Regions from separate parts of the Homo sapiens genome. Here all the other regions are linked to region 1. Evidence: fine-mapped expression QTL. A gene starts in region 1. Each other region holds a variant in brackets. All regions are shown on one strand. Distances are from middle to middle.

Evidence for each region. PIP is the estimated chance that this variant, and not a neighbour inherited with it, causes the effect.
Region 2: its variant is fine-mapped to the expression of PRKCZ-AS1 in thyroid (GTEx, PIP above 0.99).
Region 3: its variant is fine-mapped to the expression of PRKCZ-AS1 in whole blood (TOPMed, PIP 0.98).

What each region holds. Positions count from the first base shown.
Region 1 is chr1:2,182,252-2,186,403 of GRCh38, reverse strand. It overlaps PRKCZ-AS1 (PRKCZ antisense RNA 1), which reads left to right and starts at 2,529. Exons shown (of 2, transcript NR_146290.1): 1 at 2,529-2,833; 2 at 3,663-4,152. It overlaps PRKCZ (protein kinase C zeta), which reads right to left. Exons shown (of 18, transcript NM_002744.6): 17 at 1,706-1,821; 18 at 1,009-1,482. The coding sequence ends at 1,395. It also overlaps a transcript of FAAP20 not described here.
Region 2 is chr1:2,059,189-2,063,340 of GRCh38, reverse strand. PRKCZ (protein kinase C zeta) reads right to left here. Exons shown (of 18, transcript NM_002744.6): 4 at 3,750-3,800. Among named protein-coding and RNA genes, the nearest start is that of PRKCZ, 11 kb to the right of the region's middle. RefSeq lists an enhancer at 1-112. The variant C/A (reference allele first, on the strand shown) is at 1,803.
Region 3 is chr1:2,110,376-2,114,527 of GRCh38, reverse strand. All of the region lies in intron 4 of PRKCZ (protein kinase C zeta), which reads right to left. Among named protein-coding and RNA genes, the nearest start is that of PRKCZ, 62 kb to the right of the region's middle. RefSeq lists an enhancer at 1,981-2,030. The variant G/A (reference allele first, on the strand shown) is at 1,983.

The DNA of each region.
Region 1 (4,152 bases):
CACCATGTCGTGCTGAGCGCCAGGCACGGAGTGGCACCCTGAGAAACCTGAGTGTGTAGGGTGGGCCACGCTCACCTGCTGGGGATGACCTTGAGGCAAGGCAAGGCGCGGCACAGACCTCCTAACTTGGGGTTTTACGTCTCTCTTCCCCAAGCCACCAGCCGCACAATGGGGTGGAGCGGCCCCTGAGTCATGGAGGCCTGGGGTCTCTGCGCCTGGCCAAGAGGGCTGCGTGGCAATTTCCACACCTGTGCACCAGGCCTCACTCAGAGGCATGAGGTGGCGCGACCCCCTCTCCCAGGGAGCTCAGAAGACGGCTCTGCCACACCTGACACCTGGCAGCTGGCAGCCCTGCCTCTAGGAAGCCTCAGCTCTGGACAGCTGTGCCTTCACCTGAGGGGTGGGTGGACGGAGAGCGCGGGTGTGTTCCCGGGAGCAGGAGGTCCGCGCCGCTGGGAAGAGTGCCTGTGTTTCTGGGTGTTTGTAGGGTCATCACGTTCAACTTTAAGGCTGGGGTCCGTCACATGCACATCTTTTAGTTTTCCCTAACTCTCAGTGCTGTGTGACAGATAAGAATATCTTCCAAAAATCAAATGCGTCGCACGAGGCATCGTGCAGGCACTGCTTAGTGTGGTCAGAAATGATTTGTGCAGATTTAGTGTTCAGTTTTTTCTCTTTTTTGGTCTACTGTGCTTTGGTGGGCCACGTTTTAGAATCTCTATGATCCAATTTCCCCCATCGGTCCAGTGAGCTGGCTGGCCCAGCTGCCATCTGCTTAAGGTGTCACTTCACCCTAGACCACAGCGGCTGGGACACACTCTGCAGGAAGAACAACAGGAACTTACCGGGGTTTTTAGGAAACAATTCTTGATTGCGGTGTGTCCCCACAGGTACTTCAACTCCCGCCCCCACCTGTGTCCCGCTGGCTCCTAAGCTGCCCCCCTACGTGTGGGTTGCGTCTGAGATGTGGGGCAGGCGCCACTCACGGAAAAAAGGCATCAGAGGAGCTTCCACATCATCGGAACATTTTATTCCTCAGGACGCTACACGCTCACTTTCCTGGCGGAGCAGGTCAGTGCATCGAGTTCTGTTTCCGTGGAAAATGTGCACCTTGGAAACCGCATGACAGCCCCCTCGGCAGGGTCCCCGCGGATCCGCCGCGACGCAGGCACAGCAGCAAGTTCCTCCAGCACGAAGCTGGCCTGCCCGGGCCCAGGTGTGAGGGACTGTTCTGCTCCCAGCAGCGCCCGCTGACGCTTCCCTCTGCGGTCTCGGCGCAAGCGTCTGTCCCTGGCCGCCCTCGGAGCCGTGCCCAGCCTGGCATGCATATGCGGTGGTTAAGGATACAGTTAAAGGGTCAATCACGCGTGTCCACGACAGAGACGCACGCGGCCTCACACCGACTCCTCGGTGGACAGCAATAATGGGTTGATATACTCAAAGCCTTCGAACTCTGACTGGTCGATCCTCTTTATGGCATCCCTGTGGGCAAAGGTGGCAGGGGGGAGGGGGGTGACCGTGTGTTCATTCCCTTGGGGGAAGCGGAGTCACGTTCGCATAAGAATCCTCCCCCAACGCCCACTGGAGAGATGACACCAGGCGGGTGGGACTCAAGGGCAGGCTGGGTCACCAGCTGCCCAAGGTGCCGGCCTGCCATGGGGCTGCCCGAGGGGTGCTCCAGGGACCCGCACCCAGTGGGACTCACTCATCGTCTGGGGTCAGCTGCACGGGCTCGCTGGTGAACTGTGTGTCAAAGTTGTCCAGACCGTAGTCGTCTGTGATCTGTGGCTGGAATGGAGGGAGCGCCTGCTTCTTCTCCAGCTTGGAAAAACAATAGGAGAAGGGTCAGCTCCGCGCGGGCATCATCCCTACCAGATTGAGTGTTTTGCACGCACTTCAATCACAAAATGAAACAGTGAGAAAGTCAGCATTTCAATCTGCCTAGTATTTGACTGCCAAGTGTTTTTTCTTACAACACAAAATCTAGAAAATATCCAAAGTCAGAAAAATTGTTGTCGAGCTGAGAAATGCCAGTGTCGGCCATGCTGGCCACATGTGGGACGGAGCAGGATCCCCAGCCACCCATGCGAGGCCACCCCCTTCCTTGGGGGGGTCCTTGTTCAGAGGGGCACCGACAACTAACTGGCTGAACAAGCCGTCTCATGACGTCTTGGAACCCTGACCATAAAGGTGTAGGACCTGGCCACAGCACCCTGCCTGCGCTGGCACTGCACAGACCCGTCTGTCAGGAGCCTCCTGCCGGCCCATTTCTGCCTATCCAGGCATCGACTTCAGAATCTCAGGTGCTGCTTGGCAGGAAAATGCCCAGCAGGCGGGCCTGGGACTCGGTGATGCGCCTGTGCCGGGGAGGGCAGAACGCTGGTGCCTGGCACAGGTGCCACAACACATACGGGTGAGGACACTGAAAACCCCTCAGTTCCCCCGACTCATGGCCACTTGTCCCAGTGACACAGCCATGCTCTCCCACTCACCCACAATAGGGTCTGAATGTGCCCCCCAGATTCACAGTGAGAAACTCATTCCCCAGAGCAACAGTGTAGAGAGGTGGAACCTGATGGGAGCCCCGCCCTCACAGACAAACTCCTGTAGCTGTCAAGACAGCTTGGGCATGGATTCCTCTCTGCCTTCTGCCATGTGGACACGTGGCCTTCCTCCCCTCTCTCCTCCGGGGAATGCAGTGTTTGGGCGCCATCTTGGAAGCAGAGATCAGGCCTCACCAGACACCAAGCCTGCTGGCACCATGACCCTGGACTCCCAACCTCCACAGCTGGGAAAGAACTCTGCTCCCTAGAAATTACCCAGGCTCGCTCAGGTATTCTGTTACAGCAGCACCAAGAGACATTCACTCGCTTACTCCCTCACTCTCTAACCCACTCCCATTCACCCTCTCACTCCCTCTCTAACCCACTCCCATTCACCCTCTCACTCCCTCGCTAACCCACTCCCATTCACTCATTCACTCACTCACTCTCTAGCCCACTTTTTTTTTGAGATGGAGTCTTGCTCTGTTGCCCAGGCTGGAGTGCAGTGGCGCGATCTCGGCTCACTGCAACCTCTGACTCCGATTCAAGCTATTCTCCTGCCTCAGTCTCCTGAGTAGCCGGGACTACAGGCATGCACCACCATGCCCAGCTAATTTTGTTTTTTGTTTTTGTTTTGAGACTCGCTCTGTCTCCCAGGCTGAAGTGCAGTGGCACGATCTCGGCTCACTGCAAGCTCCACCTCCCAGGTTCACACCATTCTCCCGCCTCAGCCTTCTGAGTAGCTGGGAGTACAGGCGCCCGCCACCACGCCTGGCTAATTTTGTTTTTGTATTTTTAGTAGAGGCAGGGTTTCACCATGTTGACCAGGCTGCTCCCGAACTGCTGACCTCAGATCATCTGCCCTCCTCGGCCTCCCAAAGTGCTGGGATTACAGGCGTGAGCCACCGCGCCCGGCCCTCTTTAGCCCACTCATTCACTCACTCCCTCGCTCTCTAACCCACTCCTGCTCACTCACTCATTCACTGGCTCACTCACTCTCTAACCCACTCTCTCTCATTCCCTTGCTCGTTCTCTAGCCCACCCTCGCACACTCATTCACTGGCCCGCCCCTTAGGTGTGTGCTCCTGTACCAACACTGAAATCCAGCTGTCACAACAGGCACCCACTGACTCCAGCCTCATGGAACCACCATTCACCAGGCTTGAGGGGAGGATGTCACGGCGCGCTGCTCCCTTCGGTGCCAGCCAGGATGGGGCCGGGTGGGTGCAGCTGGTGAAAAGAAATGCAGCCCCCCAGCCCCTGCAGACCAAGCCGAACAGCCCAGCTCGCGGGTGGATCACAGGGCACCCAGCAGCCGCCTTCCCTCCGGAAGAGCCAAGAAGGCTTCCAAGACCAGAAATGCCCCCAGTGTGGCTGTGCCTGTCCCCGGTGCCCCGCCAGCTGGGGGGCAGCATACCCAAACAGATGCACCCTGCCCATGATGGCACCCCAGGGACCCCCATCCTCAGGACCCTCCAGTCGTTCAAGCTGGAATTGGCAGGTTTCTGCCTGTATAGGCATCGGCTTCAGAGTCTCAGGTGCTGCTTGGCAGGAAAATGCAGGGCAGGAGGGGCTGGGCCTCAGCTCGAGGCTCCCAGGTGCAGCCCCC
Region 2 (4,152 bases), 120 kb after region 1:
ACGCTATCTCAAAAATAAATGAATAAAAATAGAATGATCAATGATCCAGCAATCTCACTTCCGGGTCTACACCCAGAACTGAAGGCAGGGTCTCCAGAGGTCACTGTGCACCCGTGCTCACAGCAGCATCATTCACGACAGCTAAACTGTGGAAGTCACCCGTGTGTCCACTGACAGAAATGGGTAAACAAAATACATCCATACAGCAGCCTGCGGTTCAGTCTTGAGAAGGAAGGAGACTGTGACACAGGCTACGCATGGCTGCGCCTTGAGGACATGGTGCTGAGTGAAATAAGCTGTCACAAAAGGACAGATCCTGTGCGATTCCACTCACAGGAGGCCCCTAGAGTCACCAAAGTCACAGAAACAGAAAGCGGCGGGTGGGTGATGGGGGCTGGGGGAGGCAGAATGGGGAGTGAGTGTTTCATGGAGACAGAGGCTGAGTCTGGGAAGATGAAGAGAGTTCTGGAGATGGGCGGTGATGATGACTGGACAGCAATGCGAATATCGAATACCAGTGAATTGAACCTTTAAATTTTAATGGCTAAGATGGGGACAGGCTCGGTGGCTCACATCTATAATCCCAGCACTTTGGGAGGCCAAGATGGGTAGGTCACTTGAGCCCAGGAGTTCGAGACTAGCCTGGGCAACATGGTAAAACCCCAACTCTACAAAAAGAAAAACTCGGCCAAGTGTGGTGACACACACCTGTAATCCCAGCTACTCGGGAGGCTGAGGCATGAGGACCGCTTGAGCCTGAGAGGCAGAGTAGTAGTAAGCCAAGATTGTACCATGCACTCCAGCCTGGGTGACAGAACAAAACTCCGTCCCCCCTCTGCCAAAAAAAAAAAAAAAAAAGTTAAGATGGCAAAAATAGATGTTATGTGCATTTTACCAGAATAGAAAAAAGATCTGCAGCGCCAAGAATGCCCCATCATGGATGAACCTTGGAAAGGTCAGGCGGGTGAAAGCCACTAGAGGCAAAAGGACAAACATGCAGGATTCCACGGACACCAAACGTCCAGAATCCGCAGGGCCACAGAGACAGAGGCTGAGCGGAGGTGGGGCTGGGGCAGAACAGGGAGTGACCGATGACGGGCACGGGGTTCCCTTTTTGAATATATTTTGGGTTTGTAACTACATAGAGATGATAGTTGTAAGTATACTTTAGAATTTTTTTAAAAATCTATAAAACCAATTCACTCATATAGACACACATAGAATGTGCCAGAAGGTCCTCTGCTGACGGTGAGACAGGCACGTCCAGCCGTCTGAACCAGGCCCACGGTACAGCCGCAGTCCTGCCCTCGTCTGCCTCTGGCGTGCTCCATCCACTGTACACACCTCCCAGTCCGACCCTTCTCACTGACCCTCAGCCTGGGCAGTGCTGCCTGAGGTCAAAAACACCTGTGAACACCCCCACAGGCGCTAAAACCACAGAGCCCCAGGCGGCGGCCACTGGCAACCAGAGCAGGGTGTCCTGTCTGAGATGAGCACCACAGTCAGAGTGAAAGAAAGCACAGGACATCAGGGAGAGCGCCAGCCCCCTAAGCCCTGGTGGCCTGGGACCCCGAGTGGGCAGTGTGTTCTCACACACTCCTGACACTAGCGCCATGAAACCCAACCCACGTCCGGGTGGACATCAGCACACAGGGCAGGGCAGGGCTCCCCACCCCCAGCACCCGCCTCTGACCTCCTCGGCAAAGGCTGCCCCAGAGGCTCTGGCGGAATGTCCCCAACCAGGCTGAGTGGTCCCCGAAGCCGTGGAGCCACCCCTGGTAAACATCTCAAGGACCTACTCA[C/A]GTGTCCCAGGAGGTCCTTCCTCGGGGCTTGGCCACATTCTCCGCATTCCCCACGGTGACTCGGCTGCCACCCCCATGACACACTCCCCTTCAGAGCTCAGGCCTCTGGACATCCTGTGACCCCCCAACCTCCCCTTCCTCCACTGCAGTGGCCGAGCAAATGCGGGCCTCCCTTCCCTACGCAAGGCCGGCAGGTTGTCCACACGGGCAGAGAGGCAATGCCGAGGTCGTAGACAGAAAGAGCAGACCCCAGGCCCCCAGGCAGGGTTGAGACAAGAGGCAGACATGTCGGAGAAATACGGTGGGCTTCCCCCGCGCCCAGGGGCTACACTGGCCGCATGTGGATACCTCTGGGAGTGCACAGTCTCAGCACACATGGGACAGAGGAGCACAGTCCTGTCACCAAGTCAAAAAATCACCCAGGTGGCAAATAAACACGGCCCGTGGGTCCCCTCCTATAAAGCAGCAGCATGAGGCTGCAGGGCGCTGTGGAGGGGACAACCATCGTCTCACCCACAGGGAGTATCTGTCCTATTTATGTGTTTATGTATCTATAAAAACGCAGTGAACCGTGCCCTCCCAGGGTGCGTGCTCCAGGGTCCGTGAGGCGTGGGCACCCAGAGGGAGGGTCCCGGGAAAGGTCACCACCAGGGCAGCTGCGTAGGTGATCAGGGCCCTGACGCCCACCGTCTGGCCACCTGCCTCCAAAGCCTCCCCGCCCCCTGCCTCCTCACACTCGCCCTGCGCTGCCAAAACCACCTGGTGGTGTCCGCCTGCCACGGACATACCCCATCTCCTCCTGCCGGCAGGTCCAGCCCCAGACCACCCGCTCCATTCCTGCCAGGGCCCACCTCCGGATGGCTCCTCGGCCTTGCCGGCCACGGTGCAGGGACCCCGGTTGGCTGAGGGCCTGGAACCGGGATGCCACGCCGCCCTCTCCCCGGGCAGATCATGGAAATCCCATGGCTCCTGGGGCCTCCCCTACGCTAAGCGCTGCCAAACCTCTATTCAGCCCCACTTCTCGCTGGAAGCCGAGACTCTCGCCCCCTATGCTAAGCACTGCCAAACCTCTATTCAGCCCCACTTCTCACTGGAAGCCAAGACTCTCGCCCCAACTGCCCACTCACCCTCTTGGCCTGAATCTGCTCCCACCCCCAGTTCCCGCCCAACACAGGGCACTGCCAACACCCAGCATCCAGCCTGAGGCCAGCGAGGTGTGTGCCCTGGCAGCAGGGGTGGGGGAAGCCCTGCCTGAAGGGCACTGAGCCACGTGCCCTGCGCTGGACAGGCAGCGGCCTCGGTCCAGGAGCTCCTGCCCACACAACGAACAAGGCATGGCACGGATGCTGGAGGCCGTGTGGGGTCTGGAGAGTGGGGGTGGAACCCCACCAAGCACAGCCATGGGATGCGCGGCCCGAGAGCAGCGTAGCCACCTGCTCAGGGCCCAACAGTCTCCGGGATGCAGTAGGAAGTGAGGTCAGAAGCTTCCCTCTGAAGCCACAGCCCCCGGGACTCACTCTCCTTCCTCTCCCAACAATGGAGCCAGTGTGGGATGAACGGAGCCCCCACACCAGCTCAGGGGCCAGCAGGGACCAGGAGGAGCAGACGACTGGCCTAGGGGTGGTCGTGAGCTGAGGCAGCCACAAAGGAGCAGTGTCCAGCCTCCCACCTGGCCCCTCCCTCCTAGGGAGACGGCAGGGCACCCCTGGACTTCTCATGCTACCAACCAGCCAAGCGAGTCCCCCGCCATGTGGTGCTGTCAGCCAGAACACGCACAGGCAGCAGCTGCAGTGAAAACCCCACCTGCGGTCACCACGGCTGCTCCTGCCCTGACGCTCCACGAGGGTGAACCTCCGAAAACGGCACCACTGCCACCTCCGTGGCACAACGGATCAACAGTTCAACCCCGTAACATGCGAGACCGGCGTAGGAAACCCCAGTACTCACTGTCTTCTCCCGGACATGGCAGGCCAGGCTGCTCAGGGGTGCTCGGGAAAACTGGACAAGAGAGAGAAAGAGACAGCGTCAAGACCCTGCGGCTGCCACTCAACAGTCTCACGGAGGAAGTCCCGCCTCAGTCAGGCTGAGCACGTGGACTTCACGCAAGGCGCACGTGGCACTGCCAATGAGAGCCCGCTCCTGGGAGACGCAAAACCCCGTGCGTCTACGTAGGCCAGGCTCCGACTTTAAAACCCACGGAAAAACTTAGAGTAAAAGGCAATCAGAGGGACCTGGACAGCAAAGCCATCAGAGGAAGCTACTGATTTGTATTTTTAAACTATATAAAAATGGGAAAGAAATGCAATTACTTTGAACACTGACTTTTAAAAGCACTTTAGATTCCACTTCT
Region 3 (4,152 bases), 72 kb after region 1:
CTGGGATTACAGGCGTGAGCCACTGCGCCCAGTCATCTTATCTTTTTCTTCAGCTTATTTTATTTGCTCTGTAAGCTTAACTTTTGTGAGCTGAACTCCAAAGTCAACCTGCTGTTTGATTATTTTTGTGACTTGTTTCAAATAAAACCTCTTCTAAGAATTAATGTCCACCATATTCCTTTTTTGTCCAACAAAATAAGTCATCTCTTCTGTTTCAAATGTTCCTTCCCTCATTGGACACTGTGCTTGGGCTACCTGTATTAACACAGATCCCTGGAGAGCACGTTCTCAACACACAAGACGAACCTGCCCTGCATCCGGGGTCCCTCCTTCCACGTCCTCCCAGGCCACGACGGAGCGTCCTCCTGGAGAAAAGCTGGGGTGGGAGGGTGGGGGGGTGCAGCCCTCTGCTGTTTTTATCTCCTGAGCATTCCGAACGCTTCCACAAACTTACGCAGCCGGCCATACCCTCACCCACGCGCCACACGCACCACACACACAACATGGCGCCCGCTCTCCCTCCCCCAGAGCCAGCCCCGTGGAGCCCTTGACCGGTGGCACCCAATCCCCAGGGCATGGATGCTGTGGGCTGGGCCCCCGCCCTCTCTACACTCCCACACCATCATCTCCCCTCCCTCAAACACATGGGCACTGCGGTCCCTTCTCCCTGCCCCAACACCAGTGCCTTGACCTCCCTCCTCCTTGGCCACACCACCCACCTGCCATCCCTGGAGTCACCCCCACAAGGACTGGACCACAGCCTCTGCCCCATGAGTCCTCTGTGCCCCAACTCTCACCCACCCCCCAGCATTCTCCACGGCAGCTAGGCTGCCATTGGCTCTCAGAGATACCACTACTTCGTGCATCATGAGGAAAGACAAAAAATGTTGCCAACTCAACTGGGACACAGACAGGCAGGCTGCACCCCCTTCCAGGATGTCAGGATAAGAGAAGTCCATCCCAGCTCACTCAAGGCCCTGGTCGCCTCTGACAAAGGGGCTATCGGATGCTGCCTCTGTGCCACTTCCGAGTTTCTGGCTGACACCCTGGTCCTCACCTGCTGGCTTCCACCTGCCCTGGGTCAGGAGCGAACTCGGGCAGAAAATATGAATGCCCCGGATGAGCCCCCCTCAAAGCCCAAGATGGGGAGACATCAGGTAGAAGCAGCAGGAGCACATACTTGGCGATCCACAGGCAGCCCACCGAAGAGAACGTCACAGTCACCACAAATCACTGCTGAAGGCGAGACCAGTGGGGAGGAAACGGGGCGGCTGCCTTTTTAAACCTTACGTTAAAACCTTACATTAAAAAACATACTCATGAATCGAGGTACTCGCTAGTCAGAACTGAGACCCTGGAGGGATCCCCCGGGGCCCTGACTGGTGCTGCAGGCCCTCAGGCAGTGCCCGGCTCCAGAGCAGGAGAGGCAGGCACCTGGGTGACCCGGCCAGCCTCGGCCAGCAGTGGGCAGGCCCTAGCCAAGCCACTGTCTTTCCTTCAGCTGATGACTGTAAGTCACAAATGTAAAGAAAATGGGGCCGGGCGCAGTGGCTCAAGCCTGTAATCCCAGCACTTTGGGAGGCCAAGGCAGGCGGATCGCCTGAGGTCAGGAGTTCGAGACCAGCCTGGCCAACACGGTGAAACCCCGCCTCTACCAAATATAGAAAAAAAATAGCCAGACATGGTGGCGAGCTCCTGTAGTCCCAGCTATTTGGGAGGCTGAGGCAGGAAAATCCCTTGAACCCAGGAGGTGGAGGTTACAGTGAGCCGAGATCACGCCACTGCACTCCAGCCTGGGCGACAAGAGCAAGACTCTGTCTCCAAAAAAAAAAAAAACCAACCAACCAACCAAACAAACAAAAAAACGGAACTGCAACTCCAGCAAGTTTCAAGGACCTTTTTCTTCTTCCTTTTTTGAGTACTGTGATGATTACAGGCATCCAGAGAAGGAGGAGGAAACGTGTGGGGTCCCATTCACCTCC[G/A]CTCCAAGCGGCGGCTGCACCCCACAGTCCCCCATGCCGGGACCTCAGCATGGGCCTCTGGGTTGGACTGAGGGGTCCTCAGCATGAAGCTGGCTGGTGTTCACGGGGCAGGGGTTCCAGGCTGACCCTCCGCCTGAGGCTCGTTCATCCTCATTGCAATGGAGCACGTCAGAGGTTCGCGGGCCGCCTCGCCGGCTGCTTCGGACAGAAGGTGCACTGTGCCGTTTGAGGCCTCTGTGTCACTGGGGCAGGGGCCTCAGCTTAACCCACATAAGGATCATGTCTACACATAAACGTCAAACACTGTGTTTTATGAGCAATTTAGGGGATTCTAAGCAAAGCCTGTTTTTTGCCTTCTAGGCAGACTCCTGGAACCCGCACCCTGTAACCCAGGCAGAGGTGAAGGAAGGAGAGGGGAAAAGCTCTGCTGGAAACCACATTCTGCAGCGATTTTCACTCAGTTTGGGAAACACTTGGAGTTTGGGAGACGTTTTACAGCAGATTCATGAAAATGACTTGTCCCGAGGAAACATCGCCTCGAAGACGACTAAGGTGAAAGGAAGGTGCCAACTGGGAGGCTGGCACACGGCACTGCCCTTCCCGGGTCTTCTGAAAGGAAGCTGTGGTCCCTTCCCCGACACCCGTCTCTCCCACATGGGTGAACATCCAGAAGCCTGGTGGTGGATGGACGGTCGGTCAGGAGGCCGGACCCACAAGTGCCTACGTACCTCCCTCCTGCACGTCCTGAGGCTGTAGGTCAAAGGGCAAGAAACAAGGGTGGAGCCAGGATGTGGGTGCTGTCCACACCAGGACAGAGGGTCTGGCTGGTGGGGAGTCGAGGGTGCGGGCTGGAGGGTGAGGGTCCTGAGTCCAGGCCGGCAGCAGCCCCGCCAGTTCCTCATCCAGACCAGCCCAGACTGGAGAACTCCAACAATGGCAGGCGGGGCGCAGCAGGCAGGGGACAGCTCCCAATGCCAGGTGACCCGGCAAGCAGGCTCCCTTCCTCCCCCTGCCACACACTCTTCCCTAACCCCAGCCCCTCCCTGTCCGCCTCTTGAGTCCTGACAACCAGCTTCTCTGGAGACACCCAGACCACCAAGGTGCACCCCTTGTTGCGTGATCCCCTCTGGCCCCCTCATCCTGCCCATCACTTCTCGGAGGCTCAGCCCCAGGCCTCCATGTTGCACCCCCACCCCGCCTGTCCCTGTCAACCTGGGACCCTCCCTGGCTGTGCCCCAGACCTTCACAGTTGCCGTGGGGTTCCCTCCCCGTCCCCTAAGTGGTCCAAAGACACCTTCTCTGCCTCTTTCTTTTCCCACAGCACCCTCCTGAGGGCTCAGTAACCTCAGCTCAGCCCGAGTTAGGCCCAACACGCACAGCCAGCCCCACAGCTCCCAGCACCCACCTCGGCTCCTCCTCGCCTTCCCTGCCGCAATACCCATGGGTGCAGCAGGCCCAACTTTCCTCCTGCCTTCCATCCTGAGCCCTTACCTCGCCATGCTGTGTGAACTGGCCTGGGTCCCGCCCTCAGGGCGGGCACGGGGTAGGGTGGGGGAGCTCAGGATGGCAGGCCTCGCACCCGAGGGGAAGGCCGCAGGGACGTGTGCAAGCTTCCAGTCCCTCACCTTCCGGCTCGGTCTCTCAGGAACTACACCGTCCACCAGCCCCACCCTGGCCCCACAGAGTCCACTGTCACCAGCCCCTACAGGGACTCTACTGTCCACCAGCCCTGCCCCCCACAGGGACTCCACTGTCACCAGCCCCACCCCAGCCCCCTTCACTCCGCTGCTCCCAGCTCTCTCAGGACCCAGCCCACCCCACCCACACTCACAGGGTTTCAGGCAGAGGCCCACAGTCACCAAGGCCGATCCAAACCCCCATTCCCTGGGCCAGCGATGGTGTGAGGGTGGACAAGTGACCCAAGGGTGTCGAGGGCCCAGTGGACTCAGGGGACTCCAGGGACTTGGGGGACCTTCGTACCAGAGGAGTCTCTGTTTCCCTCTTCGGGCCCAGTGGACTCAATGGACTTGGGGGACTCCGGAGATTCAGGGGACCCTGGTACCAGAGGAGTCTCTGTTTCCCCCATGAAGCTGCGACCCAGGAGCCACGGGGCTGCCACGGGACCAGGAGCCCCCTGACCGGGGATGAAGCCTGAACGGAGGAAGCCAGT